Linked DNA regions of Homo sapiens: all the other regions are linked to region 6. Evidence: fine-mapped expression QTL. A gene starts in region 6. Each other region holds a variant in brackets. All regions are shown on one strand. Distances are from middle to middle. Region 1 overlaps SPTBN1 (spectrin beta, non-erythrocytic 1). Region 2 overlaps SPTBN1 (spectrin beta, non-erythrocytic 1). Region 3 overlaps SPTBN1 (spectrin beta, non-erythrocytic 1). Region 4 overlaps SPTBN1 (spectrin beta, non-erythrocytic 1). Region 5 holds the start of LOC124906008 (a long non-coding RNA gene). Region 6 holds the start of SPTBN1 (spectrin beta, non-erythrocytic 1).

The links. PIP is the estimated chance that this variant, and not a neighbour inherited with it, causes the effect.
Region 1: its variant is the best candidate, but not a certain one, in a credible set for the expression of SPTBN1 in tibial artery (GTEx, PIP 0.57).
Region 2: its variant is the best candidate, but not a certain one, in a credible set for the expression of SPTBN1 in amygdala (GTEx, PIP 0.89).
Region 3: its variant is the best candidate, but not a certain one, in a credible set for the expression of SPTBN1 in blood mononuclear cells (TOPMed, PIP 0.85).
Region 4: its variant is the best candidate, but not a certain one, in a credible set for the expression of SPTBN1 in gastroesophageal junction (GTEx, PIP 0.54).
Region 5: its variant is the best candidate, but not a certain one, in a credible set for the expression of SPTBN1 in blood mononuclear cells (TOPMed, PIP 0.59).

What each region holds. Positions count from the first base shown.
Region 1 is chr2:54,564,522-54,569,594 of GRCh38, reverse strand. The region is part of intron 2 of SPTBN1 (spectrin beta, non-erythrocytic 1); the gene reads right to left. Among named protein-coding and RNA genes, the nearest start is that of SPTBN1-AS1, 8.4 kb to the right of the region's middle. The variant GC/C (reference allele first, on the strand shown) is at 2,092.
Region 2 is chr2:54,623,550-54,628,622 of GRCh38, reverse strand. SPTBN1 (spectrin beta, non-erythrocytic 1) reads right to left here. Exons shown (of 36, transcript NM_003128.3): 10 at 5,027-5,073; 11 at 3,661-3,819; 12 at 2,389-2,691; 13 at 373-526. Among named protein-coding and RNA genes, the nearest start is that of SPTBN1-AS2, 54 kb to the left of the region's middle. The variant A/G (reference allele first, on the strand shown) is at 2,054.
Region 3 is chr2:54,629,624-54,634,686 of GRCh38, reverse strand. It overlaps SPTBN1 (spectrin beta, non-erythrocytic 1), which reads right to left. Exons shown (of 36, transcript NM_003128.3): 14 at 4,884-5,063; 15 at 4,658-4,795; 16 at 3,076-3,832; 17 at 1,919-2,121. Among named protein-coding and RNA genes, the nearest start is that of SPTBN1-AS2, 48 kb to the left of the region's middle. RefSeq lists a silencer at 4,434-4,493 and enhancers at 4,684-4,733, 4,963-5,063. The variant G/A (reference allele first, on the strand shown) is at 2,421.
Region 4 is chr2:54,504,069-54,509,141 of GRCh38, reverse strand. All of the region lies in intron 1 of SPTBN1 (spectrin beta, non-erythrocytic 1), which reads right to left. It also overlaps the pseudogene C9orf85P1. Among named protein-coding and RNA genes, the nearest start is that of SPTBN1, 50 kb to the right of the region's middle. The variant T/G (reference allele first, on the strand shown) is at 2,182.
Region 5 is chr2:54,588,922-54,593,994 of GRCh38, reverse strand. All of the region lies in intron 2 of SPTBN1 (spectrin beta, non-erythrocytic 1), which reads right to left. LOC124906008 (a long non-coding RNA gene) reads left to right here and starts at 4,561. Exons shown (of 3, transcript XR_007086322.1): 1 at 4,561-5,073. RefSeq lists an enhancer at 4,331-4,380. The variant C/T (reference allele first, on the strand shown) is at 2,211.
Region 6 is chr2:54,454,320-54,459,392 of GRCh38, reverse strand. It overlaps SPTBN1 (spectrin beta, non-erythrocytic 1), which reads right to left and starts at 3,066. Exons shown (of 36, transcript NM_003128.3): 1 at 2,875-3,066.

The sequences.
Region 1 (5,073 bases), 110 kb before region 6:
TGAAAAGCTTAAGATGATGTTAAGTAAAAAATAAAAAGCCAAGACAAAACTCGTCTATATTAACACTTCTAAACTGCACGTGTGTGTATATGTGTGTGCTTATATATATTAACTATTGGAAAGTTAAAATTTGTAGGACTTGTGGGATCTTACGTGAACTATTCTTTCACTTTTCTTTCTTTTCAGGGCGTCAATACTGCTGTGACATAATAAATATATAAAAAGTATCTAGAGTAACAGGAAGGAACAGCTAGAAATTTAACTTAGTCCATTAATAACCTTCAACCCTGCCTTTGAAAGAACAACCCCCAGTCCCCTCTCCAGTACTGCTGCTTTCAACTGGCCACAACCCTTCCATCAGGACGGTTCTGGAGTGTTGCCAGCCAAGAACTGAATTCCCTTATCTCCCCCACCCCGTTCCTTTCTTCTTCCCAGGGGTAAAAACTTCCGGCCAACAAGTTTCAGCAGGTGTTTTTTCTCCCCTACCCAATCAATAACCAGTAATTTTAAAGTTTCACCTACAAACTCAGAGGAAATGAGCACTTACCATGTAACAGATATTTCACATACTTCAAATCCACTATTAGCGCTAAAACCTGAAGGCACCACTAGGTAAGTTTGATGTGCATGAAACTAGACTGAAGTCTAACCAACTGCAAGAACAGGAACGTTCATTTAATATAGGATCATTCTACTAAGATGAAGTGTGGCTGAAGAAGAGTATTTGTGCTTTGTTTCTGAAAAAAATAGTTTTAAAGTATTTAAAAGGTTTAAGTCATAAAACAGGTATGGACTCATAAATTTCTACTTCCCAGGACATCATGCTGAAATTCTGGAATAATTTAGAGAAACTGACCCAGGGTATTTTTGTGATTCTCCATTAATATCAATGGGTAAATATGAAAAGAAACTGTTTTTTTACCTCACAAATTTCTAGAACTGCAGGACTAGCAAATAGGAAAATCCCAGCCAAATTCTATAAAAGACTTACTTCTAAAGCTCAGAATTAGTTAACTATGTTTTAAAGCCCTGTAATCTTCTAGAGCAATACTAAACTTCCTTTAATTAACTATTATACTCAAGATTATTTTTATATTTAGTTAAAATAATCCAGTTTATTCAAAAAAACCAAAAACTCCTCCATTTAATGAAACTATTTCCTTGTCTGTTCATAGGAGTTAGAAGGCAGACACCATTACTTCCAAGGCAGTGCTTCTTCTTCTTTTTTTTTTTTTTTTTTTTTTTGAGACAGAGTCTTACTCTGTTGCCCAGGCTGGAATGCAGTGGTGCAATCTCGACTCACTGCAACTTCTGCCTCCCAGAGTAGCTGGGATTACACATGTGCGCCACCACAACCGGCTGATTTTTGTATTTTTAGTAGAGACGGAGTTTCACCATCTTGGCCAGGCTGGTCTCGAACTCCCGACCTCTGGTGATCCGCCCGCCTCAGCCTCCCAAAGTGCTGGGATTAAGGCGTGAGCCACCACGCACTGCCAGCAGTGCTTCTTAAACTTGAACAGGCATACAAAGCACTTGGGGATTTTTAAAAGACGAGATTCTGACTTAGGAGGTCTGTGGGGAGGTCGGCCTGAGATGCTGTATTTCCAACAAACCCCAAGTCATCTATCTATACTGAATAACAAGGTTCTAAGTCCCCTATTTCACTTTCAAAATTCTAGGAGGTTATGTCGTTTCTAAGTTTCTCACTCCAGCAAATAAAACACTGGTCTTCTGTCTCCTTCCTTGACCAGCACCCTCCAAAACGATCATCATACCAGCAGTCAGACTAGCCTTTCTATATATATAGAGAGAGAATAAAGCATGCCTCAGTGACCAGAGTTAAGAAATTTATATATAAATGTAAATAGGTATATTTATATTTAAGAAGTGGATGAGAGGCTGCCTGGTGGGTATCATGTGCATTGCTCCAGTAATAGATACACTCAAGGCCTTGACTTCACCACAATGCAATACATGAATGTAGCAAATTGCACTTGCAATCCGTGAATATATACAAATAAAAATAATAAAATTAAATTAAAAATCCAGATTTAAAATCCTCTCCTATTTAAAATCCTCCAGTATTGCTGG[GC/C]ATGGTGGGTGGTGCATGCCTGTAGTCCCAGCTACTTGGGAGGCTGAGGTGGAAGGATGGCTTGAGCCCAAGAGGTAGAGGGTTGCAGTGAGCCAAGATTGTGCCACTGCACTCCAGCCTGTGTGACAGAGACCCTGTTTCCAAAAATAAATAAATAAATAAATAAAATAAAAATCCTCCAGTACCTTCCCACTGCCTTACGTCCAAACTCCTTTACCTAACAGGGCCTTGCATCCTTTATTATCCTTCTAGAATCCTTCCTACCACCCCATCCTCACTCTGTACTTTAAGGTCCAGTAACCCTGAACCTGCACAGATTCCCCTACCTCAGTTCCTCACCTCTTACCTAGATCAAGTTTATTTCTCCACTTGCTTCTATTAATCAGTTGGCTTAGCCAGCATTCCCAGCACAGCTGAAACACACCCATGCACTTTTTAACCAGACGACAGCTGCTCACTGGAAAGCAGGTAATCAATAAATATTTGTTAATAAGTAAGTAGAATACCAAAAGAGCAAGCCCTGTATTTTTTAAAGTTTTATTTTAGTGTTTTATTTCCTAGGATCCTTCCTGCTTTTAAAGTAGTCTAAGTTAGTGCCAACAACTGCCATTTTAAATGGCAGGTTCTCTGCACCAACAAAATGATTTAACAATCATCAAACTTTTTTTTTTTGAGATGGAGTCTCACTCTGACGCCCAGGCTGGAGTGCAGTGGCGCAATCTTGGCTCACTGCAACCTCTGCCTCCCAGGTTCAAGCAATTCTCATGCCTCAGCCTCCCGAGTAGCTGGGACTACAGGCGTGTACCACCATGCCCAGGTAATTTTTGTATTTTTATTAGAGACAGGGTTTCACCACGTTGACCAGGCTGGTCTCGAACTCCTGACCTCAGGTGATCTGCCTGCCTCGACCTCCCAAAGAGCTGGTATTACAGACATGAGACACTGAGCTTGGCCTGTCAAACTTTTAAGTCAATGCAGCAGAGAATATTAAACATTTGAAAAACATGCTTACAGGGGCCAGGCGCAGTGGCTCACGCTTATAATTCCAGGACTTTGGGAGGCCAAGGGGGGTGGATCACCTGAGGTCAGGAGTTGGAGATCAGCCTGGCCAACATGGCGAAACCCCATCTCTACAGAAAATACACAAATTAGCTGGGCGTGGTGGTGGGCGCCTATAATCCCAGCTACTCGGGAGGCTGAGGCAAGAGAATTGCTTGAACCCGGAGGCGGACGTTGCGGTGAGCTGAGATCATGCCACTGCACTCCAGCCTGGGCGACACAGTGACACTCCATCTCAACAAAAAAAAAAAAAAAAAAGAAAAAAGAAAAATGCTTACAATGCCCTTATCCTTTATTTCCCCCTTTCATTTGTTTTTCATAGCTGGGTTTCAGAGTTGATAGAAAGTTGTCAAGAGAGAAAAGGCACTAGGATCTACAAGTGGCTAAACCCCACCTGGTCTGTTTTGATTATGTGCACAAGAGGTGGAGCTATCATTAACTAAAAACTTAATGCTCTGTCACTGTCCACATTATTTTCCAGAAGGTTAAAAGAAAAAACAAACCCTGAAGTCCTTACTTGAATTGCTGTACTATATTTACTAGTAATCAACAATACTGGAATTGTCAGTGTTCATTTATATGTAGAAGTTTTCTTTAAAAGGAATACAGTCATGGAAACAACAGCCATCCTTCACATTTTAATAGTACATGGATGTTTCCAGGGAAACTTCATATAGATCATATCATTTGCTGGTCAACACAATCTTGTGAAGCAGACCTGGCAGTTATTCAAATAAGGAAAGCAGCCTAGATATTGATCTGTCTCCCTTACAGATGCCAAGTTGCTGGGATTTTTGTTTTTTAAGGTTAAATTCAATAGATTATTTATTAAGAATATAAGTGAAACTAACCTTGATGCCTTGCTGAACTATCCTTAGAGCCTACACACACTATTAGGTTTATCTCTATTTTTTCTAAACTTATATCTCTTTCTATAGTGGCTCTTGAGCCAACTGTGGGAGAACTGAGGCAGGTAACTGACCCCACCTGAGGGTCATCTGAGGCAGAAGAGGTGGCTGAGACAGATGTTCAACGGCTTCTCTAATTTAAGCAGGACAGAGTCCATTCCTGAGTAGCTAATGTTTTTCCCACTGTTTCACAATTTTGTTCTAAAAAACATATTTTCCCCCAACTCTTCATTCTTCTATAAGAAATCAGGTATAATACCTGCTCCTGTTTGGGAGCAACTTAAAGAGTCTGCTTCTCCATCCCCACCACAAAATTTTGCAAAGATTGTACAAATGATCCAATAAGGGACTATTTCTCAAATTTTAGTGTGCACCAGAACCACCTGGCAGAGTAGCTGGAAACACTTATTGGTAGGACCCACCCTAGAATTTCTTATTCAGTAGGTGAGAAGTGGAGATCTGAGATTTTACATTTCTAGCCAATTCCCAGATGATGCTGATGCTGACCTGGGGACCTCATTTTGAGAACCTCAATTTGGGAACCACAGCAATAAGGGAGTCTATAACACTGACTTCATTAATTTTGCTCTTTAGCAAATATTTAGCGGCTTGTATGTGTAAGACAGACTATTCAGACTTTGGTCTTCAGGCTCCCAGACTTCACGAAATACAGGGAAAACAAAAAGACAAAGACTGGAACTGTAACAAAAGGCAGTAATGAAAAATCACAGGTGAATGATCAAGCGCTGAAACTTCAAATCTTAAAAGGAAGGGAGTCCAAGCAGGGATGTTGACCTCCCCAACCTCCTGGAATGCCTAGAATAAGTGGCATCTGAACTGAACCTCAAAAGACTGATCCTGACACATGAAATGATTCCCTGCAGAAGAAACCAAGAGGGCAGGGTGTCAAGGGTGCCAAAATGCAGGGCAGGTTTAAGGAATCACAACTTCTGTGGGGTACAGGTGTGGCAGCAGCTGCAGCTGGGACTGGAGTCAAATCCCAGCAAAGATGAA
Region 2 (5,073 bases), 170 kb before region 6:
TAACCAAATCATTCTAAACATCCTCCAAAGAGAGGTATATGCAACCAGCTGTGAAAGCCAGGAGCTGCTGGAACAGCCACACCAGGGTGTCGGTGCATGGCCAGAGAGACTGAGGTATGACAAAGTCTCACTGCCAAACACCAAGCCACTCAAAGCAAAGGCAGCATTTGCGTATTTAAGGAAAGGATGTATCAATTCCAGAAAAACAAGATGGAGTTAGTGTTCAGAAGGCCACTCCACCGTATTTCATGCTCCCATGACAAACCCACCAGGAATGTATAGTGGCACAGTAACTTCAAAAGCCCCACTGTGTTTCTATAAATATGAATCTCTGGTGACCCGGAGGTAATGCTTGGAATGGGCCATCCTTACCTTCCCCGTCTGTTGCGAACTTCTGGGCGGAGGCATTGACACCTCTCACCCGCTCTGCCTGGATGCCAATGTCTGCTTCAACCAGGGTGTGCTTCTGTAACAGGTCTTCCACACCAAGTAAGTGTTTGCCATAGTCTTGAGACAATACTAGCACCTGTGCACAAGAAGCAACCAAAAGGACATCTGTGACTATAGCCTTGACTTCAGCATCACATCATCTTTCGACAAGCAGAGAGCCAGCAATGAAGCTATGCCTTCCCTCTAGTCTGCCATGGACCCCACACCTTCAGGGGAAGATGATGGCCAACAAACCAGAACAAAACAAATCATACCTGAAGGCCTGAGTCAGGAGAGCTATCACAAACTAAGGATCACCAAACTTGGAATAAGTAAGTCAAATCTACACTAAAAAGTGCAGAATAGAAGAAAAAGATGGTGAGGGCCAGCGGGGCCAGGGTGGGGGGGAGGGGGCAGTGGGGAGCGTGGGCGGGGGTGCTGTATGAAAGATTCCAAAATATAAACTGGAGCTTCAAGAAGAAACCGCTGCAACAACTACTCAAAAATAAATAAATAAAGGTGATAGACTTGGTCACTTCAAAGTTGAAAGAAATCTTTTAGAAGTTGCTGAGCCTGTAAGTGAATGTTTTTCCTCTGTTAGGAGCTTATTGGTATGCCTCTACTGTACTTACACAATCAATGGGAAAACAATCTACTTGAAAAGCTTACAAGCCACATCTTTAAACCAATAAGGAGAGCAGGGTCAGGTGGCTGTCTTGCTTAGTAGACCCCAAGCAACTTCTAGAGTTTAAGTTTGAACCCACTGATATTTTCTTGTTTCTTCCATCAACCAGCGAAATTTGGGGGCCTCATTCTACATCCTCGCCAGATGAGATTTCTACTTCACTCTTACTTCTGAGGAAGTCTCTGGACCAACTGAGTTACAATGTGCATCATGATTTATAAAATGAAAAGTCCCTCTCTGCTACATTTTACGAACATTTCTATTTTGAGAGGTCAAGAGAGACCAGACCTAAGAACACTGTAAATCTGGAACAATAGGAGGGAAAACTGATGGTATCAGATGACTTTGCCCCTCTGTCAGGAACAGTCCAAGAGGTAGGCAACAGATGACAGCTTATATCCTGGGAAGGGAATCTCTTGCATAAGGTCAAGCTTGGGAACACAGCGTGCTGAGACAAAGGAAGCTTCATGGGACTGTCTGAAAACTGTCCTATTTTCTTCTGTCTACAAGGCTAAAGGCCTCCCAGCTGGAGAACTGCTTGGCATGGCTGAGCATTCCATGGCCTGCATTGGAGGACATGAACAGGTACAGGGCCATGGCATGATAGCAGGTCTCTTCCTGGGAAGGGGGAAAGGTTGGAACTCTATGCTAAGAGCAGTCAATAAATGGCATGACCAGCCACTGCCATCCAGCCCATCCCATGATCTGTGCACATACTACCGCATTCCATCCTTGCAATAATTGGATGAGGTAGATAGTAAGTACAATCTCCATTTAAAGACCAAGAAAGAGGGCTCAAAGAGGATTAGGCAACTCAGGCACTCACAATCAGAACTCTGGCTGCCTGGTTCCTGACCTCTCCTCTGTCCATGGCACCTACCACTCCTCCCTTCTCCCCATACCACCTCTCCGGGACCCCTGCCCAAAGTAGTACCACTC[A/G]CTCACAGATCAATGAAACGGTAAGTTAGTTTAACCCTGAAAACTTAAAAATAAAGAAAACCACAATGTGATTGATTCCCTACACTGGAATATATCTAAGTCACAGAAACAGAGCTCTGGCTACTGAACTGGTCTCTACAACTTTTTCACACTTCACGTCTCATTTAATTCCTGAGCTAGCAATCTTCCCATGGGTGATGTGGCTCCTCTCTAGCTGTACATGTGGGCAGTTAGACAAGGCACACAGCTGTACGTAGGGGTTTAGTGAATGAGTCACAGAAAAGAGAGCCCTGGTTGGATCAGCTCTGTCGTCCTTCCTTTCGGTCAGGTTTTACCTTCATTTCATCCATCCAGTCCATAATGTAGAGCATTTCCTGGAATATCTTCTGCAGCCCCAGGTTCATCTCGAGCCGCTGTCTCCGGGCCCTGAGCAGTTCCAGTAGGTATTCCCAGAGCCGGATGACATTGTCCTTCCTCGCTGTGATGCGCTTGATGTCGTGGTAATTCTCGGCCTCGAGCTCCCTGGCCACGGCTACCACAGCCTGCACACGCTCCTCGTATGCGGCAATGTCTGTCTCAATGGCCTCGTGCTTTTTTGTGGCGGCCTCAACTGCAGGAAGGTCAAACCCAAAGTTGTCCTACAGAGAAACGGAATGAAAAGAAGGAAAATAAAAAATCCACCCGGGCACAGTAGCTCATGCTTGTAATCCCAGCACTTTGGGAGGCCGAGGCGGGCAGATCACTTGAGGTCAGGAGTTCGAGACTAGCCTGGCCAACATTGTGAAACCCTGTCTCTACTAAAAATACAAAAATTAGCCGGGCGTGGTGGCACGTGCCTGTAATGCCAGCTACTTGGTAGGCTAAGGCAGGAAAATCGCTTGAACCTGGGAAGCAGAGGTTGCAGTGAGCCGAGATTGCGCCACTGCACTCCAGCCTGAATGACAAGAGTGAAACTCTGCCTCAAAAACAAAACAAAAACAAAACCAAAAAACCTATTTCCCGCGCCACCCCCCCTCCAAAAAAGGAAAAAGAACAGACATGAAATCTTGAGCACACATTAATCCCTGGTGGTCTTAAAGCCAAATCTGACTCCTGAGTCCCCCACCCCACTGGTCTCTGCCTTGAGCTTAGATGCCCTCCTCAAAGCAAACTAGTAACTGCTCATTTTGCAGAAGGGCCCAGTTCGTATCTAGTACCTTACTGAAAAGCTAGAGCAGGTGATAGCTTATGTCAAGCCAGGTGGAAAAGCAAGCCATTTTTGTTTATTTCACAACCAGTCTAACTGCCTCGTAGGATTAGTTGGTCAAAGATTAAAGAAAAGAGAGAAACTGTTAAAACTTATAAATGTGAACAGTTCACACACACTCAATGGCTCTAAAACAAACTCTGCTTGAGCTGCTTCCAAATCTATGAAAAGTTAGATAAATAGAAATGTATATTAGAAATTATAAACATCCTCTTAATGGGAAGGGGCCAAGGTGACCTGACGTTCCTCCAGAATAATGAATGTCGATAAGCAGCTGTCCTCTGGCCCTATGCCCCTGGGGATGGTCTGTGTTTCTAGATTACCCTAGCAACAGTCTTTTTAATAATGTCAAGAGCAGAACCTGAGACACCAGACGCTGGTTTTCGCTCAGCCAAGTCTCCCTCATAGCTGCCTTGCGATCAAATCTGCGGGCGAGCTGTTCCAGTTTCTCCTGTCTTATGAGCTCATTCCGCAAAGCCAGTTCTCTTTCGTGTTCCGCTTTTTCCAGTCTTTCCCAGGCCTACAAAAATGAAAATACACACACACACAAACACAGTTTCCTGCAGTGTTCAAGGAAACTTCCGTGGTTACAGTCAACAGCTAATATTTCTCAAAAGGACCTGACAGCTTGAATGGGAAATCCCATTCCCACTCTCACTGACTCTCAAGCCTTGAGGAAAAAAACGGGTTTTTCTCTCAGTGTATCCTCATGGGAACACTCTTCCGTCATCTAAATCTAAAGATTCTGTGTTGTACTTGGAAAACAAAACTGTAGCTATGAAGCAATATAAGTAAATTATAAATCTCTTACTTTAAGAGGAAATAAATTATCTTAAATAGCTTTGATCATATAAAAAAGATAAATGATTCTTCTAAGAATTCATATGAATTTCTCATTCATTCCACCCTGGGCCACTTTTAAAAAATTTACACATCTGAAATTTCTTTCAAAATCCTGACCTACTGTCCATATTAAATTCATTCCTAGGAAATCTATTTCTTCACCTAAAAAAAAAAATCAAACCTTCCACTCGAAGGAATCTAAGTGGGGCCAGACGCAGTGGCTCACGCCTATAATTCCAGCACTTTGAAAGCCGAGGTGGGAGGACTGTTTGAGGCCAGGAGTTCAAGACTAGCCTGGGCTATATAGTGAGACCCTGCCTCCATTAAAAAAAAAATTTTAATGAGCAGCATAAAGGAATGTAGTTCTGTACAAGTGACCAAAGTTCTAGAATTTTTCAAATTTCTTTCTAGTTGGAAATAATGCCTGCTGTGAATTTCTATAACTGCAGGCATAATAGGCATGATGATTAAAATTGCTTATTTGACAGCATCTCTAATGCAAGAAGCCAACATCCTAAGCCCCACAACTACTATGAAACACATGAAATAAGGTTTCAATTTCTCCTTTCTGTAATTTAAAGATGTTTGAAACAATTGCCTCAGATGAGAAGTAAAGTGATATGTATCTGAGTAGCAAGGTGTATAGCCTACGCCAAAGCTGGTTTGATAAAATCTAACATTGCCCCCTGAAGCCTCCAGCAGCCTAACCCGGTACCATTGCTTGCTTGGTCCTTTGCCACACCTGAGCACCAGCTGCCAATTGTCAATTCGGCAGGTGGGGACAGCCCCTTCCAGTCTCTTGTCCTCTTAGCAGTCGAGACCTAGTGATAGAACCTGAAGCCTCCAGGAGGTCAGGGCCCATGCAGAGTCCAGATCCACTTTACCTTGTTGATGTCAGAGATGAGCTTCCCCTCCCGGGGCATGTAGACCT
Region 3 (5,063 bases), 180 kb before region 6:
ATCTGAAGGTTTAGATGTTTACTTAGTTTGTGCTCCTACAGCACCTGGAACTCACAGATGTGTGTGTTTTCATAACTGACAAGTACCCTCTAGGGTCAGTTTCAATTCTGTGGGCCTCTGGGGATATTAAAGTGAAATCAGAATTCAGTTAACATCAATGGAGAAAAATAAGAAAATGTAGTTCTCCTGATGGCAGGTCATCGGAAAGCTCCCTCCTTCCATCTTTATTATGCTTATTGATAGTACAGGGTTATCTTTACGTTTCATTTTTAAAACTGAGGAATCCTAAGGAAGCTCTGGAACACCAGTAGCCCAGGCTCTTGGTCAAGGGCAAAATGAAGGTTAAGCCACAACTGAGGGCTGCTGCTGCTGAAACGTTTTATCATATCCAGGAGTCTAGACAGCATCATCTGCTTCCAACAGCTTTGTGCAGTTGCAGCACTGGGGACATAAAAAGAAACCGAGGAAGCAGCAAGGCAGCTGCATGCCTGCCTGAATGCACACATCCCTAACAGCCAAGCCCGCCTGCAGGAAACCAGCTGTGTGCATCTAACATGGAAGTACATAGGATATCTTATTTACAAAATACTCAGAGTTAATATTACAAAAAAAGGAAATTCTTTTTCCCTAGGTTATGAATGCTTTGCCCAATTGCTGTTTCTCATGCTCATTTAAGGAGGGTTTGGTGGATTTATTTTTCTTTTTTGCAGCTGTTTTAAAAGCAACAGATACAAAATTATAATTAACATAAGTTATTCTCTATTCCACAATACCACCCTAGAACATATAGTTCAGCCTGGGAATCAGCTCAGAAAAAAAGATTGGAAGTGGTAAAGACAGGAGCTCAATCTTTATTGGAAACAGAGTAATCCCCTCTCCACCCATCTTATTTTAAGTCAACCTGACCAGGGGTCCCAGGAAACCCTCTCAGATGTGGTAAGCAAAGGAATATTTTTCCTTTCCAACACACTTGAAGGCCAGAAGAGAGGCAGAAAGGAAGGGCTTGTTTTTTGATTACATCAGTCTCACAGCAAGCCCTTAAATTCAACCCAAACTGGAACAGGGGCTAGTGATTGATCCAGTGGCTGGCCCAGACTGGCCTGTGCTAGTGCATCCAACCCCTGATCTGCCCCAACCTCCAACTTAAGTAACCGGGGCAAGGCAAGAGTAAGGAGTGAGTCAAAGAGTTAGGGTCAAACAGAGTCCACTGGCCTCCAGCCGGGGAGGAAATCTTTCAGACAGACAGACAGACACACACACGCACACACACACACACACGTAAATAAAAAAATAATTTTAAACAAGAAATGAAGAAAGTGTATCCAATCCTGGAGATGCCCTGGCAGAAGAGGAAAATAACCTTTGCTCTTATTTACCTCTCCATCATGAAAAAGATCCTATTACAGCACTATCCAAGCCAATTTTCTAAAAAAGTCCAGGTAATGTTCCTTTGTAGCTTTGCCAGGTACTCAGAACAAGCAAGCTTCACCCTCCCTTCCCACTCTCCTGACAGGCTTCTTTCTCATGGATGAAGGGGAACACGGGCTTGGCTGGGAATACCTGGCGCCAGGGGTCCTATCAGGTGACACAAGCGTGTGTTAATCCTCAAAGGGCATGGCTTACACCTGATCGCGATGCAGCACTACGGCTCTTACAGGTCCTCGGTTAAGAATTAGCTTGGCTTCTCAGGCTTTCTTTCCTTTTGTGGACACTTGTACATGTCTCACCAGACCCACATTCTCAGGCAGTCATGCACAGCTCACTAATTTTCTGTATGGGTAGATGAACTTCTGCTGGGCACCCATATTCTGCCCACTGGGAAATTTATACCTAAACTCCCAAGGGCTTCTGGCCAATGATTCAGAAGTTTGAGAGCCCCAAGGTGCAAGGCTCCCTTAAGAACCTCAGAAAACTGTACCTGTCATCAATAGAGTCCACCTTCTCCTGGATGCGATCTGAGTTGATGTTCCCATCGCTCACCAGCCTCCGGCCAGTCTCCACCACAGCATTGATCTTCTCCTCATTGGCGTCCATGGTGGTCATGAAGTCCTCTTGCTTTTTAATTGCTGCTTCAGCTCCTTCCAAGGTGGTAGGCATTTCAGTGTGAGCCAGAACATACTCCTTATTTAAAAAGAGGAACAAATCATAGCAGATCAATGAAGGATCTCATTTTCCTGTGTTCTACATTTCCGTGCAACATAGTTCACAACACTTTCTTCATTACACTTACATGAAATAATTAAATCACATCAAATTAAAAGTTAGGAGGAAAAAAACCCAGTGGGACACTGTAACTGACCGAATTTCCCTCAGGGGTTAATGCTCTAAATTTTTTTTTCCAAAGAGAGTGAGGAAAGGAACCAAAGCTTTGTGTATCAGCCTCAAGGGTCCTCTCACGTGCCTATCAAGGCAACAGCAAT[G/A]TACCCTTCATACTCTCTCTTTGAGACAGTAACAGCCCTGAAGTTGGTGACTATCCTCAGCTGTTTTTATTTCTCTAATCTCTACTTTGTGTCCTCAGGTGAAGTCCCTGACCCTTCTAGAGCAAGAAGACAGACTGGTCTCAAGAAAAAAAAAAATCCTCACCGTACTTTTTTTTTTTTTTTTTTTTTAAGAGACAGGGTCTCACCCTGCCACCAGGCTGGAGTGCAGTGGCACGATCACGGCTAACTTCACCCTTGACCTGCTGGGCTCAAGTGATTCTCCTGTCCCAGCCTCCCCAAGAGCTGGGATTACAGGAGTGAGTCATCATGCCTGGCCCTCACTGTATCTTTTAAATTGGATCAATACCTCAATTATGAAGACATACTATGAACACATAAGAGATCCTCAATGGCAGTTGAAATCAAACAGTACTTTGTAAGGCAAAGCAGCTCTTATGGCAACTTTCAATTCCTGTCCCCTACAACGTGATGGATTTCAATGCCTTAAGAGTATGGGGAAAAAAAAATCAGTCTCTAAATTATCCATATAATTCCATACAGGTGTGGTTTAAACCAGCTGCCCCAGCCAAAACATTTCAAAAGGCAGCCAGGGCTGCTTTCACCGAAAGGAAGCAAAGGCAGGAACAAACCTTACCTGGTTGTTAAGAAAGGCTTCGGCTTGCTTCGTGTCTCTGAGGAACTGCTGGTAGGCATGTGACTGGGATAGGAGATTTTGTCTGTTCTCCCACATCTTGTGGAGCTCGTTCCATCCAGTGTCCAGGGCCTGCAGCCGCTGCCGCAGAAACATGTACTGGGCATCGGTCTGCCCCTGGGTGACCATCTCGCCCATGTCCCTCATCTTCTGGTAGTCCTCCTCGTAGTTGTCGATCTCGTTCTTGATGTTCTCGTGCTGCGTGAGCAGCTTCTCAGCCTCGGTCAGGGTGTTTGGCATGTCCTCCGAGGCGATCGCTGTCTGGGTCCTAGAGAGCCAGGACTGGAAGTCGTCCAAGTCCCGTAGGAACTGCTGCAGCTTGCTGGCCTCTCCCAGGGAGGCCTCTCGGTTTTTCAGGGTGGTCTTCATCTCCTCCCACACGTCGCTGATCTCGGCCAGCCGAGACAGGATGGCCTGGGCCTGGTCGGGGTGCTCGGACTCCAGCTTCTCCGCCTCCTTCTGCAGGTCACTCAGCTTTGCCTCAATGGCCACCAAGTCCCGCTCCATGCCGGTCAGCTTGCGCTGCAGGGCCATGACGCCAGCCAGGTCATTGCCCAGGTCCTGGGTGGACTCGATGACCTTGGTCTTTTCCCGAATCCAGGATTTGGTTTCATTGCACTCGAGGTGGTAGTTCTGGATGCTCAGGGCAGACAGGAGGGCATCCTTCTTCCTGTCAACCAGTTCTCTGAACTGGCTCCACCTGTGAGTGCAGGGGCAGACAGCGAGTGTGAAAAAGGGAAGACTGACCATGGCTGGATTGCAAAAGGAACAGTGATGGGTTAATGCTGCTTATCTGTTTTCTCCATCTGTGCTTTGACTACATGCTTTTTTGGAAAATCATCTCACTCAAACTGTGAACACCAAATATAATGGAAATAGCTCAGGGATGCAATGTAATCTGGAAAAAGCCTGTCACGAAGAGGAATGTGTTACAGAGCTCCAATGTGAGCAATTACAAGATATCCATTCCCAGAGTCAATTAATTCATGTCTGTGACACATTTTACACATCTCTGAACTCTACCTAATGAACGTTTTCCAAATCTAAGACTGATGGTAACCTTCAAAACTGGGGCCAGGTGCCATAACCTACTCAAACATGTTTACTCAACAGAAAGATAAGACTGGAACAAAGGTCTGCCCTGACAATCAGGACTTTCATTGGCAAATTAAGTGTTAAACATGCTAGAGTCCTGTTCCTGAAGTTACTATAAAATGGATAGCACAGGTGTCATCTTAATACCTTCTACACTGGACACAGGTCAAACCAAGGCCCTAACTTTGGTGTGGCGAGGGGCAGATGCTGGGCTGACTCAGATAATCCTCCTGCAACCAATGATGTTGCCCTGAGAGACACTTCTTACAAAACAAGGACATGTCAAAAGGCAGGTGCCAATGCCATGACATCAGTGTTGCAATGTCGATGACCCCATGTGGGAAATTCCCAACAGCAAAGCTCGATGAGTGACCTCACCCTCCCCAGTCCCACACGTGGGAGGCTGGCACACTGCTGGCCACGTGCTCACCTTGTGTTGAGTTTGTCCTGCTGGGCTTTGATTTCCTTCTCACTTGGGTGGCCGCTGTGCATCAGCTGGCGTGCAATCTGGTTCACCACTGCAACCCGGGAAGCCTGGTTGTTCATTTCTGGTTCTAGGCTCTCAAATCTGAAATGGCAATTTGACAGGGTGGTCACCTCCTGGGCCACTGGTGGTCACAAGGAACAGGCCAGTGGCTGACCAGCGCCCCGCTCACCTGTGCTGGATGACCTCCAGATCCTCCAGCTTCTCTGGGATCTGCATGTTGTTGAGCCACTGCTCCTTCTCGTCGATCCAGAGCTCACAGGCATCAGCCTCGCTGAACATCTTGTACAGGGCCAGAGTGTCCTGGAGTGCCTGCTTCCGCAGCCGCGTCAGCTCTGCCACCTCCTTATAC
Region 4 (5,073 bases), 50 kb before region 6:
AATCGCCACTCACCAGCAAAGGCAGGCTATGCTATAGTATCTTCCACATCTATCACTGAGGCTACCGCTCTGCCCCCCTCCATTACCTCTCAGCAAGCTGAACTCACTGCCTTAACTTGAGCCCTCACTCTTGCAAAGGGACTACCCATCAATATTTATACTGACTCTAAATATGCCTTCCATATCCTGCACCACCATGCTGTTATATAGGCAGAAAGAAGTTTCCTCACTATGCAAGAGTCCTCCATCAATAATGCCTCTTTAATAAGAACTCTTCTCAAGGCTGCTTTACTTCCAAAGAAAGCCGGAGTCATTCACTGCAAAGGCCATCAAAAGGCTTCAGATCCCATTGCTCTGGACAACGCCTATGCTGATAAGATAGCTAAAAAAGCAGCTAGCGTTCCAACTTCTATCCCTCAGGGCAGTTTTCCTCCTTCTCATCTGGCCACTCCCACCTACTCCCTCGCTGAAACTTCCACCCATCTCTTCCCACACAAAGCAAATGGTTCTTGGACCAAAGAAAAATCTCCTTCCAGTCTCACAGGCCCATTCTATTCGTCATTTCATAACCTCTTCCATGTAGGTTGCAAGCCGCTAGCCCGCCTCTTAGAACCCGCTAGCCCACCTCTTAGAACCTCTCATTTCCTTTCCATCGCAAAAATCTATCCTCAAGGAAATCACTTTTCAGTGTTCCATCTGCTATTCTACTACTCCTCAAGAATTTCTCAGGCCCCCTCCCTTCCCCACACATCAAGCTCGGGGATTTGCCCCGCCCAGGACTGGCAAATTGACTTTACTCACATGCCTCGAGTCAGGAAACTAAAATACCTCTTGGTCTGGGTAGACACTTTCACTGGATGGGTAGAGGCCTTTCCCACAGGGTCTAAGAAGGCCACCGTGGTCATTTATTCCCTTCTGTCAGACATAGTTCCTCGGTTTGGCCTTCTCACCTCTATACAGTCCGATAACGGACCGGCCTTTACTAGTCAAATCACCCAAGCAGTTTCTCAGGCTGTTGGTATTCAGTGGCACCTGGTTTTTCCTCAAACTGCCACCCTTAAGTCTCTCTTTAAGTGGATAGAAGATCTTCAGTGGCAAGGTACCCTCCAATACTTTCACCCTGATGAAGTCCTATTCTTTACTTTTATACTTACTCTTATTCTCATTCCCGTTCTTATGCCACCCTCTACCTCTCCCCAGCTATCTCTATCACACTATCAATCTCAGTTACTCTCTCCTAGCCGTTTCTAATCCTTCTTTAACAAACAATTGCTGGCTTTGCATTTCTCTTTCTTCCAAAATCACAAAGGTCTCGACTTACTGCTAAAAAAAAAAAAAAGGGGACTCTATATTTTTAAATGAAGAGTGCTATTTTTACCTAAATCAATCTGGCCTGGTATATGACAACATTAAAAAAAACTCAAAGATAGAGCCTAAAAGCTTGCCAACCAAGCAAGTAATTACACTAACCCCCCTTGGACACTCTAATTAGATGTCCTGGGTCCTCCCAATTCTTAGTCCTTTTATACCTGTTTTTCTCCTTCTCTTATTCAGACCTTGTGTCTTCCATTTAGTTTCTCAATTCATCCAAAACCATATCCAGGCCATCACCAATCATTCTATACGACAAATGTTTCTTCTAACAACCCGACAATTATCACCCCTTACCACAAAATCTTCCTTCAGCTTCATCTCTCCCACACTAGGTTTCCATGTTGCCCCAGTCCTGCTCAAAGCAGCCCTGAGAAACATTGCCCATTATCTCTCCATACCACCCCCCAAAATTTTCCCCACCCCAACACTTTACCACTATTTTATTTTTCTTATTAATATAAGAAGACAGGAATGTCAGGCCTCTGAGCCCAAGCTAAGCCATCATATCCCCAGTGACCTGCACGTATACATCCAGATGGCCTGAAGCAACTGAAGATACACAAAAGAAGTGAAAATAGCCTTAACTGATAACATTCCACCATTGTGATTTGTTCCTGCCCCACCCTAACCGATCAATGTACTTTGTAATCTCCACCACCCTTAAGAAGGTTCTATATAATCTCCCCACCCTTGAGAATGTACTTTGTGAGATCCACCCCCTGCCCCCAAAACATTGCTCTTAACTCCACCGCCTATTCCAAAACCTGTAAGAACTAATGATAATCCCACCACCCTTTGCTGACTCCT[T/G]TTTTGGACTCAGCCTGCCTGCACCCAGGTGAAATAAACAGTCTTGTTGCTCAAAAAAAAAAAAAAGAGAGAGAACCAGATCAACCTAAACTTTACTTTCTCTGGAGAGACTCTTCTGAAACCCCTAGTCCCAGCCCAGGGCCTCTCCTGTTCTATGTTCCTACTGGTTTGTTGTTTTTTCATAGCACGCACTACGATGGTGTTTAAATAATTACCTGTGTATTTATTAAATGACTATCTTGCCTGAAAGTATACTGTACTCTCCAAGAACTATTGGGTATTTCTCTCTTTTTCATCAATGTATCCCTAAATATAGTGTCTAGCTCCCAGACAACAATACACAAATGTTTAATGAACAAACTTTATACTTAAAATTTTCTCAGCTTCGAAGAGTATTAGAAGCACTTTCCCTACCAATTCCTCTACTATCAAGAAGAAAAAATTACTCAGTTCATCAAGTGGTAAATTTTTTCAAATGTAAACTATAAGTAGAAAAAAAAAAACCAAACAGATAAGCTCTTGTAGATTGAGTCATCTATATTTTTTAAATTATATTTACATGAGAATTTTTAAGTTCTCTCACTGACCAAAAAGCTTCAAAAGCAACTTCAAATTTCTAAGACAAATTTTCACTGCTGTCTGAGCAGCCATGCTCAAGGGTGCCGGCTCTGGGACAGGTCCATGGCCTGGTCAGCCCTTTCCTCACAACCTCCGAAAGCACATGTAGCACGGGGAAGGTCCCAGGGCCAAGAGAGGATTCAAATTATTCAAGCACACATACAGTCTTGCATTCAGATTTTATTTATTTATTTATTTATTTATTTATTTATTTATTTAGAGACGGAGTCTCACTCTGTTGCCCAGGCTGGAGTGCAGTGGCGCGATCTTGGCTCACTGCAAGCTCCACCTCCCGGGTTGACGCCATTCTCCTGCCTCAACCTCCCAAGTAGCTGGGACTACAGGCACCCGTCACCTCGCCCAGCTAATTTTTTGTTTTTTTAGTAGAGATGGGGTTTCACCGTGTTAGCCAGGATGGTCTCGATCTCCTGACCTCGAGATCCGCCCGCCTCAGCCTCCCAAAGTGCTGGGATTACAGGCGTGAGCCACCGCGCCTGGCCCAGATTTTTAAAAATAAAGTTCCCAAGGTTGGAAGAGAGAAAAACTGACAGCAATTCAAGGAAAACGTGGCAAGCTCAATGTGAAGCAACAGCAGAAGATACAACTAAAGGAAGCTTCACTGTTAGACGCCAAGTTAAATCACCCCAGGTACTGACCAAGCCAAGAGTGTCCAGAAGGGGCAGCCAGGCTGTAAGACACCTAGGAGACCCAGCCCAGGAGCTAGGACCCCTGGGGAAAAGTCCAGGAGACACACCTGGCAGGTATGTGCAGGCAGCTTCAGGAGCCTTCCTGGGAGAGCTGGCACAGATTTCCCAGCAGGCAGGGAGCAACAACTTCACAGTGGCTAGGGGTTAGGAGGTACTTTCTAACAGCTAGAGCGCTCCAAAAATGCAGAGAGCAGAGAGGTATTCGATTTGTTGTTGTTATTGTTGTTGTTTTCACAGCACACACTGAAACAATGTTTAAATAATGACCTGTTAAATGACCATCTTGCCTGAAAGTATACTGTACTCTCCATATATTCAACAGGATAGCTACAGAAAGAACTGAGTACTGTGTGGGAAGCCGGGATGCATGCATTCCAAGATCTCATCCAACTAACAAGCATCAATAATTTGTTTAACCACCAAGTATTCACACCATTCTTGTGATCGAATACAATGTGGTAATACTATAATATGCAAAACTTGGTTCCCAAGGTGTGTAAGACACTCTCTCTTCAATGAGGCTCAGAAGATATTTCAAAATAATGGCTTTTCCAGCTCTATGTTTAACTGAATCACCATTACTTTAATTGTAACCATTCTTTGTTTGGGGTGTTGTCATATCAAGAAAATATTTGCACTCTATAAACAAAGTATTCTTCTACAAACATTTATACACGTTTTCATTGGATTTCACAACCCCACTGAAAATAATGAGCAAAAAGTTCTCAAAACAGCTTCTGCATTCTGATGAAAACATTCATTTTAAGTACGCCACTGGAAATATTTATCACTAAACCAATTACTTTATTTGGGAATTTTACGCTTTTTAAAATATTATAAGGTACTAAGTAAAACATTTGCTTATTAAAAAAAAAACCTTTTAATTAGAAAATACAGTCATCCCTCACTACCCATGGGCAATTGGTTCCAGGACCTCTTATGAATACCAAAATCCATGGACGCTCAGGTCCCTTATATAAAATGGTGTAGTATTTGTATAAAACCGACACACATCCTCTCAAATACTTTAAATCACCTAAAGATTACTTATAATTCCTAATACAACGCCTACACATCACCTTACTCACATGGATTCAATGCAGTTCTCAGTAAGCAGCAAATCGTGCTTCTGCTTTTTCGAACTTTGTGGATTTTTTTTCCCAAATATTTTCTATCCATGGTTGGTTGAATTCACAGATGCAGAAGCCATGGATACAGGGGGCCAGCTGTACTGCTTAGGCTGGTATGACTTCTCAGTCACCCAAGGAATATCCTTAAGTCTAGGATTTTATTCTCCGAAAAAGGAGGAAATATTCCTACTAGCTAAATAGATATGAAAATCCAAAAGGTTTTTATTTAAGAAAGTCATAGAACATCAGAATGTAAAACAGCTGTGCCTTGCAGGACCTTTGTTTACACAAACCTCTCTGCCTCTTCAGGTTGGAAGGAGGGGAGGTGGGGGCACCTCAGAAAGTAGTTTTCCTAACAAATTACTCCCTTACTTTTCTCCTAATCAGACATTTGCTTTAACGGAGATTTGAACAAGTCAGTCCCACCCAGTGCACTT
Region 5 (5,073 bases), 130 kb before region 6:
CGGGCATGGTGGCACGCACCTGTAACCCAGCTACTCAGGAGGCTGAGGCAGGAGAACTACTTGAACCTGGGAGGCGGAGGTTGCAGTGAGCCAAGATCATGCCACCGCACTCCAGCCTGGGCGACAGCGTTAAGACTCTGTCTCAAAAAAAAAAAAAAAAAAAAAAAAAAAGTGTTTCCATGATACAAGACTTAGAATTACCCACCATCTCACCATCCTAACTAACGCAAGTCCTTATTTTGTAAAGGGTCTGCTGCATTATTGGGTAACTCTCCATCTGTTGGGATGGTGTCTCCATCAAGACTAGACCTGTCTCTGTGGCCCACTATGGCTTGCACCACCTTCAGAGTATGCAGAATAGGTCTCCTCACTTCTCCATGTAAAGGCCCTCAGGTTCAAACACTTCTCACCATCCCCTCTTTGCAATGCTGTACAATGTGGTACAAGTGGGATCCAAGATCACACCTGAGGACCCCACCTCTAGGCAGCCTGGACATCACTTACCTACCAACACAACCCAGGACTCGAGGCAGCTGCAGCTCTGGCAGTCCAGGGAGGAAAGTGGAAAACAAAGTGAAAAAAGGACAAAAAGAACCAGCAGCCCTCCGTGGGAGGAACGTGGTGAGGCTGTCTCTGTGACATGACAGGGGTGGGAGACAGAAAGAAGGGCTCCTAACAATGGTCTCAAAATAAGCTTCTCAGGACCACAAATTCTACCAAAATGACCTTGGAGCCCCGAGAACCTAGGAACCAGAAATGGTTCTGAGTGTGAAGACCCAACCAGCTCAGCCTTTAGTTCCACAGGCTCAGAGATAAGTAAATTAGCTAACTACTGTCAATGAGAACTACTGAGACAAGAAACCCACCCTCAAGTGAGTGGCATTTACATCAGATTCTGATTCCCAGAAGGAGTAAATTATAAGGGAAATCCTAGTATGGTGCTCCTTCCTCCAGATGGAATTTTATAAGATGGTGTGTCTGCAATAACATTGCCATGCATCTGAATGGCACTTCATACTTTCTCTAAGCTCACTAGATCTTCACAGCAAACTATTAGGTAGGTGGGATGCTAGAGTTATCTCTAGCAAAGCCCAAGGCTCAGTGAGGTTAAGGGCTGCTAAGTGTCACCAGCCAGTAGTGGTGAGGTCCTCGGCTCTTTCTCTCCCACTCCAGCCAGGCAAGAGGGATTAAGATGCATAGCTACACCTTCTCCTGTCATATACTGAGATTCACTATCTTTTGTTGTTTGGTTTCTGATAAACAACTTGAAATTCTTAGAAGATGTATTAGAAAAAAAGGATGAGGTAGCTGGGCGCGTTGGCTCACACCTGTAATTCCCAGCACTTTGGGAGGCCAAGGCAGGTGGAATACCTGAGGTCAGAAGTAGTTTGAGACCAGTCTGACTAACATGGAGAAACCCCCATCTCTACTAAAAACACAAAATTAGCCAGGCGTGGTGGCGCATGTCTGTAATCCCAGCTACTCGGGAGGCTGAGGCAGGAGAATCGTTTGAACCCGGGAGGCAGAGGTTGCGGTGAGCCAAGGTGGTGCCTTTGCACTCCAGCCTGGGCAACAGGAGCAAAACTCTGTCTCAGATAAAAAAAAAGAAAAAAGAAAAAAAAAAGTATGAAATATTTAGAACTGAGAAACACATTTGCTTAATGGTTAAAAAAAAGGGCTGTGAATATCCTCTCCACCATCATCCTCTTCTAGAAGCATAACATCTACTTCTTTTCTTTTTAGGGAATGACTGTGATAAATACTGAAAGGCTGTAATGCGTCTATGTAATTTTTTAATTTATATTTTTAAATTAATTAACCAATGAATATATTAGAGAAGGAGTCTGTCACCCCAGCTAGAGTGTAGTGGTGTGATCACAGCTCACTGTAATTTTGGACTCCTGGGCTGAAGCAATCTTCCCACCTCAACCTCCAGAGTAACTAGGATTACAGGCATGCACCATCACACCTGGCTTTTTCATTTTTTTTTGTAGAAATAGGGTCTCATTAGATTGCCCAGGCTGACCTCAAACTCCTGGTCTCCAGTGATCCTCCCACCTTAGCCTCCCAAAGTGAATTACAGGTGTGGGCCACTGCACCCAGCCCCATATTTATTTACTCTAGAGAATTTGCTATAACTGAAAAAATGAACACTGTGTTAGCGTGAGTCAAGTTAGGATACAGAAATAGCTTTGATGAGCAGAAGGGCA[C/T]TGCATGATGGAAATGATTGTACGGCATCTTTCTGCAATACCCTCAGCACAGAGTGCTAAACACAACTATATTCACCATATGCCACAGTTCTGGTTATGGAAAGGGATGGGAGCCAGGAATGAAGGAAAGCCTGAAGGCATGGAACATCTCCGGATGGAAAAAAAAGGAAACATAGAATCAGGAACTGTCAAAAGACCCTATTCATTGTTCCCCTAAAGACTGAATTTATACCTGGCTTAAGAGAAGGAATCTTTCTTTTACTTTTCAAGTAGTCTGAACCTGCACGTATAACCCAGTAATATTTTCTATCAGGCTCTTCAATTGTGCTAAGATAATGGCCTACCCCCTAAGTAAGAGACAGCAATCATGTAGTTTTTGCTTTGCACAGACATATAGTTAAGTTAGGTGTAGTCTTGGGTTCAAAGTAAGAAAGAAAGGAATTACAGGGATGGAAGTTAAGAAGAAATCAAAAGGGGAGGAAGCAATCATCCCATGAACATATCCCCACTATTTAAATCAATAATACTGTGTTAGCTGACTAATCTGAAATTGAGAGTATTAGTGAGCTCCAATATTACAAAGTGCATACTTTACCTAGAACTCTGTGTCTAAGATAAAGTCTCTTACCCTCAATGAACTAGAAATCTAGCTGGGGATACAAAATAAAAAGTTAAAAAATAACAAAAAGACATTACAAAGAAGTACAAGATCAGTTGCTAAGAGAATAATTTTGACAATCTATTTTTGCGTGTTTTGAACAAAGCTCACCACAATTTGGGTGGTTTCAGACCCCAACTGAACTCCCCTGCCTTGGGCCTCTCTCCGCATTCTAATCCACCTTAAACATCACTACCATAGCCATGTTCCTCAATCAGTGGTTTTTCAAAGTTGCAGCACTGCACCAAAACCTTCAACGGACCCCAGCTATCCAGAAGACAGTCCAAATCTCTGAACCTGGCATTTAAAGGTCCCAAACGGGCTCTCCTAAGGCATCAGCTTCATCTGGGAACTTCCCTGACATGCCGTCTTTTGTTCCAACCTAACAGGTCTTACTCTCATGCTCTGAACTCTCACCTTGCACACTGCTTTTTCCCATCTTTGCTTCTATCATTCTTCTAACCTAGAAGGCAGTTTTCTCTTACCCTTCCTTTAAGATCCAGCCAAGATTAGTTCTACCAAGAGGCCCTCTCCTATCAGATGTCAGCAATCATCATTTGATGGGATGTGGTCTCTCATCTTTTATTATACGTCTTGTGTCCTATCTCTTCAATTAACTTGCAGTTGGCTCAGAGGCAAAGGCTCAATCCTATTCATGTTTAGAGCTTTAGCATATACATGACATAAAGGAGGTGCACAATAAACATTTGTTCAATGAGTCAGCAAACCTCCAGTGTCCAACAACTAGGTTCTCGATAAATCTTATTGTTGGTGGTGGTCTCACTGAAATTGTTGAGGAGGGAAATTTCATATCACAAAGACAGGCCCTAGGCAGTTAAATGTTGTCATTGTATAGCACTAAAAATATATGACAGGTGAACTGCTTCTTGCAATTCCTCAATGTCTGAAATACGGATAAAAATGCAATTTTGTGGTGCTGTCATTCAGACTAAAATGGGTCCAGAGCCAAACTAAAATGTTTGACAAATTCTGTTTTTTGTTTGCTTGTTTTATCTTTGGGCAATTGCCACCACATACCTGTACGGTAAAGTGAAGTTGCAAAATACACAACGGTGTGATTAGGACATCATTGTAACATATTACAACATTATTTAAACATGACCCAATCAGGTCAATTGTCACAAGACTTAATTTGTTGCAACTTTAACAATTTATATATTAAAGTTTAATTCTTGAACTGTTTTAAAATAAAGAATAAAAAAGGATCTTAACTCAAAACAAAAGAATAGTGGTAGGGTGGAGTCCCCCTATATGCCTTAGCTTGAAAAAATAAATAAATCATTTCCCATGAGTAACATGCAAAATACACAGAGCAGGAAGCCGGAAACAGGCAGCTGGCTGTATTGATAACAGAGAATCCAACTGTTATCTTGAGGCAGCAACAGGAAGGAAACTAATCTTTTGACTGAAGTCCTCCCTGTGACGGACTAGTCTGAAGGCCTTAAATTCATGTTTGCTGATTTGTATAAAAATAGAATTTGAGTTACAATAGTTTCCTTAACTGTTTAACTTGCATCATGGACAAAACACATGTAAATATTTGCTCTAAATGCATGTGAAGCAAATATGCAATTGTCTGCTAGTAACTGTCTGATGGGCCGACTACAAAACCCACCATGAGCTCTCTATGACCTGGCACCTACAGGTTGCATCTGCTGGGCAGTCCCTCCTGCAGCTTCCAGAGGGCCTTTCTTCTGAGCGGCACAACCCCAGTTTGCCAATGTGGAGACCAAGGCACTGCAGGCACAACTTCTGAGAGGAGACCCACAATAACTGAGAAATGAGGCTCTGTCACCAGGGTCCTGCCTCTGTCACAGTCGTACGTCAAGGTGAGCCGCATAAAGTCACAATCCATAAGAAGCCAAGACTCTGGAGGGAGCTGAGGTTATGATGGGGGCTTTCTCCGAAAATAAGAGGCAAAGCAACACAACTACCTCTTCTAAGATGAGAGCTAAGGTGGGAACCAGTGTGAATTAATCAATAATAAGTTAATTGTACATTTAAAGATAACTAAGAGTATAATTGGATTGTTTGTAACACAAAAGATAAATGCTTGAGGGGATGGATATCCCATTCTCCACGATGTGATTATTAAGCATCACATACCTATATTAAAACATCACATACCCCATAAATATATACATCTACTATGTATCCACAAAAGTTAAAAATATTTTTTAAAAA
Region 6 (5,073 bases):
GCCAATGCCAAGCCTCTGCTCAGGATGTGTCACAAGTAGAGGGAGGTCTTCTCATTTGCTCTGCAACATCACAGATAGTTGTTACTAGTCTTGCCCAAGAGAAGTTCTTCACAGAAAACCTCAACTGTGGGAGACGACCTAGTGACAGCAGTTCCTTCACTGCCCAATACTTCTCCTCTCAGATGAAGGTTTTGGTCACTCCAGTAATGACAGAGTTACAAAGAGCTTAACCCAACAGAATTCTGCACCTGCTGTGTAAGTCAGAACAGCTAAACCTCCTGTGACATCAACACAGGATATTTCTTACAACAAAGTAAATCCAAAACGTTTGGATGATCCATGGGAACAACATTCATAAAAATCTGTACGCAACACGATTTTACACAACCAGCACAAAAAGTCTCATATTTTAATGGCTATTAGAGAAACTCAAAATAACGCACATACACCACACAATGTACATGCAGTTCTATTCTGCAGAGCCACATGAAATCAAAAGCAACTAACTTGGATTCATTAGAAATATTTAAAAATACAAGCAGGCACGCCCTTGGCTTGTAAACACTGACCTTCCCTTCCAACTAGCATATTGAAATTTCCTTTTTCACCTAAACATTTTAGGAAAGCCTGGGTTGACATTTGAAATATATCCCATTTGCCATCCCACACTGAATAATGAATTATAGAGATGGCATTTAGAAGGGAAATTCCCTGTGTCCTGGCCGAGACTAAACATGAGAACACTGGGAACCATCTCCTTCTGACTAGATGCCAGTCAAGAGGCCTTGGTGGTCTGCCCTTCTCCACCCTCTCCCCAGTCACAGCTGTGAAAAATATGTATACAAAAAATACATATAAACAAACACAAACGCAGTGTTACTGTCATAATCCCATTAATTACGCCCGGACACTTAACTTGGCTACCTCAATCAATAGAAATCTGAATACCAATTTAGCCCCCATCATGACACTCATACACCTAATAATCCTTAATAAAGCATCCAAATAATGCAACTGTACTTGACTTAGAAAAAGCAAACGATGAAAACAAAATACAAGCTAAAGGAATCATTTACTATCCATTAAAAAACATATAAATTCCTTTTAAAACAACCTACTGAATTTTAATATACTTATAAATGTCTTAGTGACATAAAACCCAAAATGCATTAATCATTTCATTTAAAAATGGTTTCCTACAGAAAAAATGCATACTTGGTATTAACCAAAGACAGACGAGGTACTGTAATGTCACAGTTGTGAAGGTCCAATTAATAAACACCAACTTTTCACGTAGAAAAAATTAATGCATAGCTGGGTTGTGGTTACAGATTATGGACGATCCACAGAAAAACGCTGCGACTCCCCACACTGCAACATTGCCTCCGCACACCACTGGGCCCAGTCCTTCCTGCAGCCCCTCCCTATGGCTCAGGTCCCCTGGTCGCAGATCAGATTCCGATCCGCAACCACAGGCCGGCTCCCCTCTGCCTGCACTGGTGATGCAGGGCGCCCCTCCGGCAGAGCGCAGCCCAAGAAGAGGTGCAGGAGGGATCATCCCAAAAGAAAAGACTCTCCCCTGCTCACACCTAGCTGACCTGGTCCTCCTGACGCCACATCCAGCAGAAGCTGCAGGACAAGGTAGCAGCAGCTCCAGGCCTCGGCCAAGGGCAGCCCCGGGCCTGGGTGGGGCCGGGCGGGGGCCGCAGGCGCCGAGCGGCCGTGCCAAGCCCCGCCAGCGAGAACCAAGGAAGCTGCGATACTGCTGCATTGTGCTGCATCACGGCGAGGGCACCGTGAGCCATCCATCTTGCCAAAAAAGCACATCCCCGCCCAAATAAACCCCACCGAATTCAATTTTCTGCTCCGCCGAAGCACCCCCACACGCACCCTGTCCTCACTTACTATCTGGCCTGGCTTTCGATTGGAAAAATAATGGACAGAGGTTTGCGTTCTGATCCCCACCCCCTCCTCATCTGATGGCAGCAGTTGGCACCTTTCCTATCACAAAAACAAAGAGAAGGCGCCCCCTAAAAGAGGGCCGTGGGCGTGGTGTGGGGGGTGATGACGAGCCAGCCCACCTACCCAAAGCAGGCCCGGAGGGTCCCTGCGCTGAGACAAACCTGTTGAAGAGAGGGTGGCAGGAGCTGAAGGGCGGGCGCAGCGGCGGCTCGGCGCCCGGAGGCGGCTCACGCCCAGCCCTGGGAGAGTGGGGACGGCAGAAAGGGCGGGGGGGGGGCGGGCGCACGAGGGTAGCAAGCGCAGGGATGGGGCGGAGGTGGGGGCGCGGGGCCGCCGCCTCCGGCTCAGCTGCAGCGCGGCGCAGCCGGGACCACGCCTGGCCGCATCCCCTGCACCGCTACGCGCAGAGCCCGGCCCTGTCACCGCCGCCCCCGCTCCCCACCCGCGGGGCCACAGAGAGGGCACCTGAAAATAGACCCTCCGGCTGTCCGCTGTCCGCTCCGCACCCACCTCCGCGCCAGGGGCCTCCGCGTCAGGGGCCGCCGCGCCCGGCTGCAGGGAGGCGCCGGCGGAGGCAGGGAGGAGGAATCGCCGCGCCGCGCCGGGGCTGGGGCCGGACGGCAGCGGTGCGCACGGCGGGTCTGCTGCCGCCTCACCGCAGAGCCTGCCGCCCCTCGTCCCGCATCATCCGAGTACCAATGAGCACCCGCGACCCGGGCTCCCCGCGCCGCCCCCGCCCGGGCTTTGCAGCCTCCCTGCCCCCACGCGGCTCCCCGGGCGCAGGGCAGGCGGGCAGCGGCGTCCTCCGGCCCTGGGCCCGCGCCCCTCCTCCCGCCCGTCCGCCGCCGCGGAGCCCACCCGGGAGGCAGCCCCAGTGAGTTGGCATCTCCCTGCCTCGGGCCCCCTACCTACCTCCCGGGGATGGGGTGGGGGCGCCGGGGTCCCGTCCTCCTCCCGCTCCTCGGCGGCCGGGCGGGTGGGCCGGGAGGCGACTCCGCGGGTCTGTCCGCGGCTGGGGCCGGGGCTCACAGGACGGGACCAGTGGGCGCTGCTGCGCAGGGCTGCGCGCTCGCTCCGGGAGGAGAGGCGGCCGAGGGAGGGACTGGAGGAATCCGCAGCCTGCACGGCAACAGCGGCACTGATTCCGGGGGCTGGGCGGGAGCGCGGGGGGCGGGGGGAGGAGGAGAGGAGGGCGCTCGCAGGGAGGGGGCGAGGGGCGGGGAGAGGAGCGCGCGGGGCGGGCGCGCGCGCACACACACACAAGCGCACTCCCGGGATCCCTCCCGCACGCCCTCCGCCCTCCGCACTCCTCCCTCCCCACTCCCGCCCGCTCCCTCTGCTTCGCCCGCCCTCTCCTCCTGCCCGGAGCCCCGCAGCCGCCCAGGGAGCCGAGCCTCGGGCGCGTCCACGTCCTCTCCAGCTGAGGCTCTTCCCGGGTCCAGCCCGGACCTCATCCTCCCAGCGGCGGGGACCGACCAGGCTGGCCGGGGCGGGGTGGGCACTGCTGCTGCCGCTACCCGAGCAGGACAATAGGGGCTTTGTCTCCACAGCCGGAGAGGGCCAATTTCACGTTTAATTTGAGGCTAATTCGATTATCGCCATGGAAAGAGGCGGTCTAATTTTCTACGTGATTTGTGCAGCCTCTTTTCGCCCTTGATGTTGCGTTCGGAATGCTGGGGAGAGAGGGTATTTAGGGAGGTTTTGGAGCGTCACTTGCTTGGTTGGTTTGAGATGCAGTTGGTGATGCCTTATAGGTTCTACCCAACTTGGAGAAGGGCGACGGCGACCTCTTCGTGGGAAACCTTGGGCGCTGGAGGATGGGTGGTGGGGGTCGTTCCTTGTGAGGTTAATGTATTCTTTTGCAAATGCTTTTTCGCCCACCCTTTCGCTTTGGGTAGCTGGGAGCAGACCCTACAAGTGGTTCATCCAACTCCTGCCTCTCAGTGCAGGCTCCGCTCGAACCTGAGGCCAGGTGCCCTGCCCCAGTCACTCCCGAGAGAGGGGTCGTCCGGCCGCGGTGGAGGGCCCCGTGATGGCGTGGGGACTTGCGTTTTCCCCTATGCGCATTCCCTGAAACGGAAACTGGACGTTTCCTCAAATTTTTGTCATGTGCCACTGCCCCTTCCCAGTCACCTGGTCTACCCCGTCAGCCCCTCAGGCTGTGTAGAAATTCCAGAACCGTCACTGTTGTGAAGAAAAGATGGTGGAATCACCAGGACCACGAATGGAAACGCTCTTTAGAAAAGCAGTTTGAAGAAACTGACTTTCTCCTTGTTCTGTAAAGTGCACAGGGCGGCACTGCGGGCATTCAGAGGGAGGAGGGCCCTTCCTGTTTGAAAAAGCCCCAGGGCTTTTTCCCCATACAGACCTGATCACCTGGATTAAAATAAAACAAAAATACACGGCAGCCAAGTAGTTTGTATCATGCTTATATCTCAGATCACTAGAACCTGGCCTGATGGGTTTATATGTTTGTATGTATTTTTAAATGAATATTTTAAAATAAAACTCAGTGAAATCGTCACAGCAAACTGAAGATGATTCTTCCTTTTAGGCCTTCATAGGTTTGAATGTTTGAACCTATGTTTACTTTTGATAGGAAAAAAATTGAGGAAAGCAAATAACATTTTTTCTCAGAAGGTGAATCAACACAACCAGACCGTAAACTCTCTTAAAGGTAGGGTTATTTCTTTCTTCACTCTGTACATATAGCAGGCACTTAGGTACTAAAACAAATTTGTTGAATTGAACACAATCAACTTGTAAGCTGCTGCCCTCATTAGGTAATAAGGGAAATCCACTAGAAAGCAAAGTTGTTTGCCTTTCACTTACTTATTTTTTTACCATGGACCCCAGCACCTCCCCACTCACAATGTTAATGAAATACCAAAGAAAACAGTAACAATATTGGGAAGTGCATCCATTTAAATTAATTCTTCCAGTGTTATTCTGAAATGGTTATTCCTTTATCACAGACAACGGTATTTAAATAAATTTTCATTTGATGAATGATTCACCTCCCTTACCCCATTCCACTCCCACTTACGTTGTTTTTTAATTAAAAAAAAAAAAAAGGCCACACACACCTTAGCAAGGTACTCTAGTAAAGCC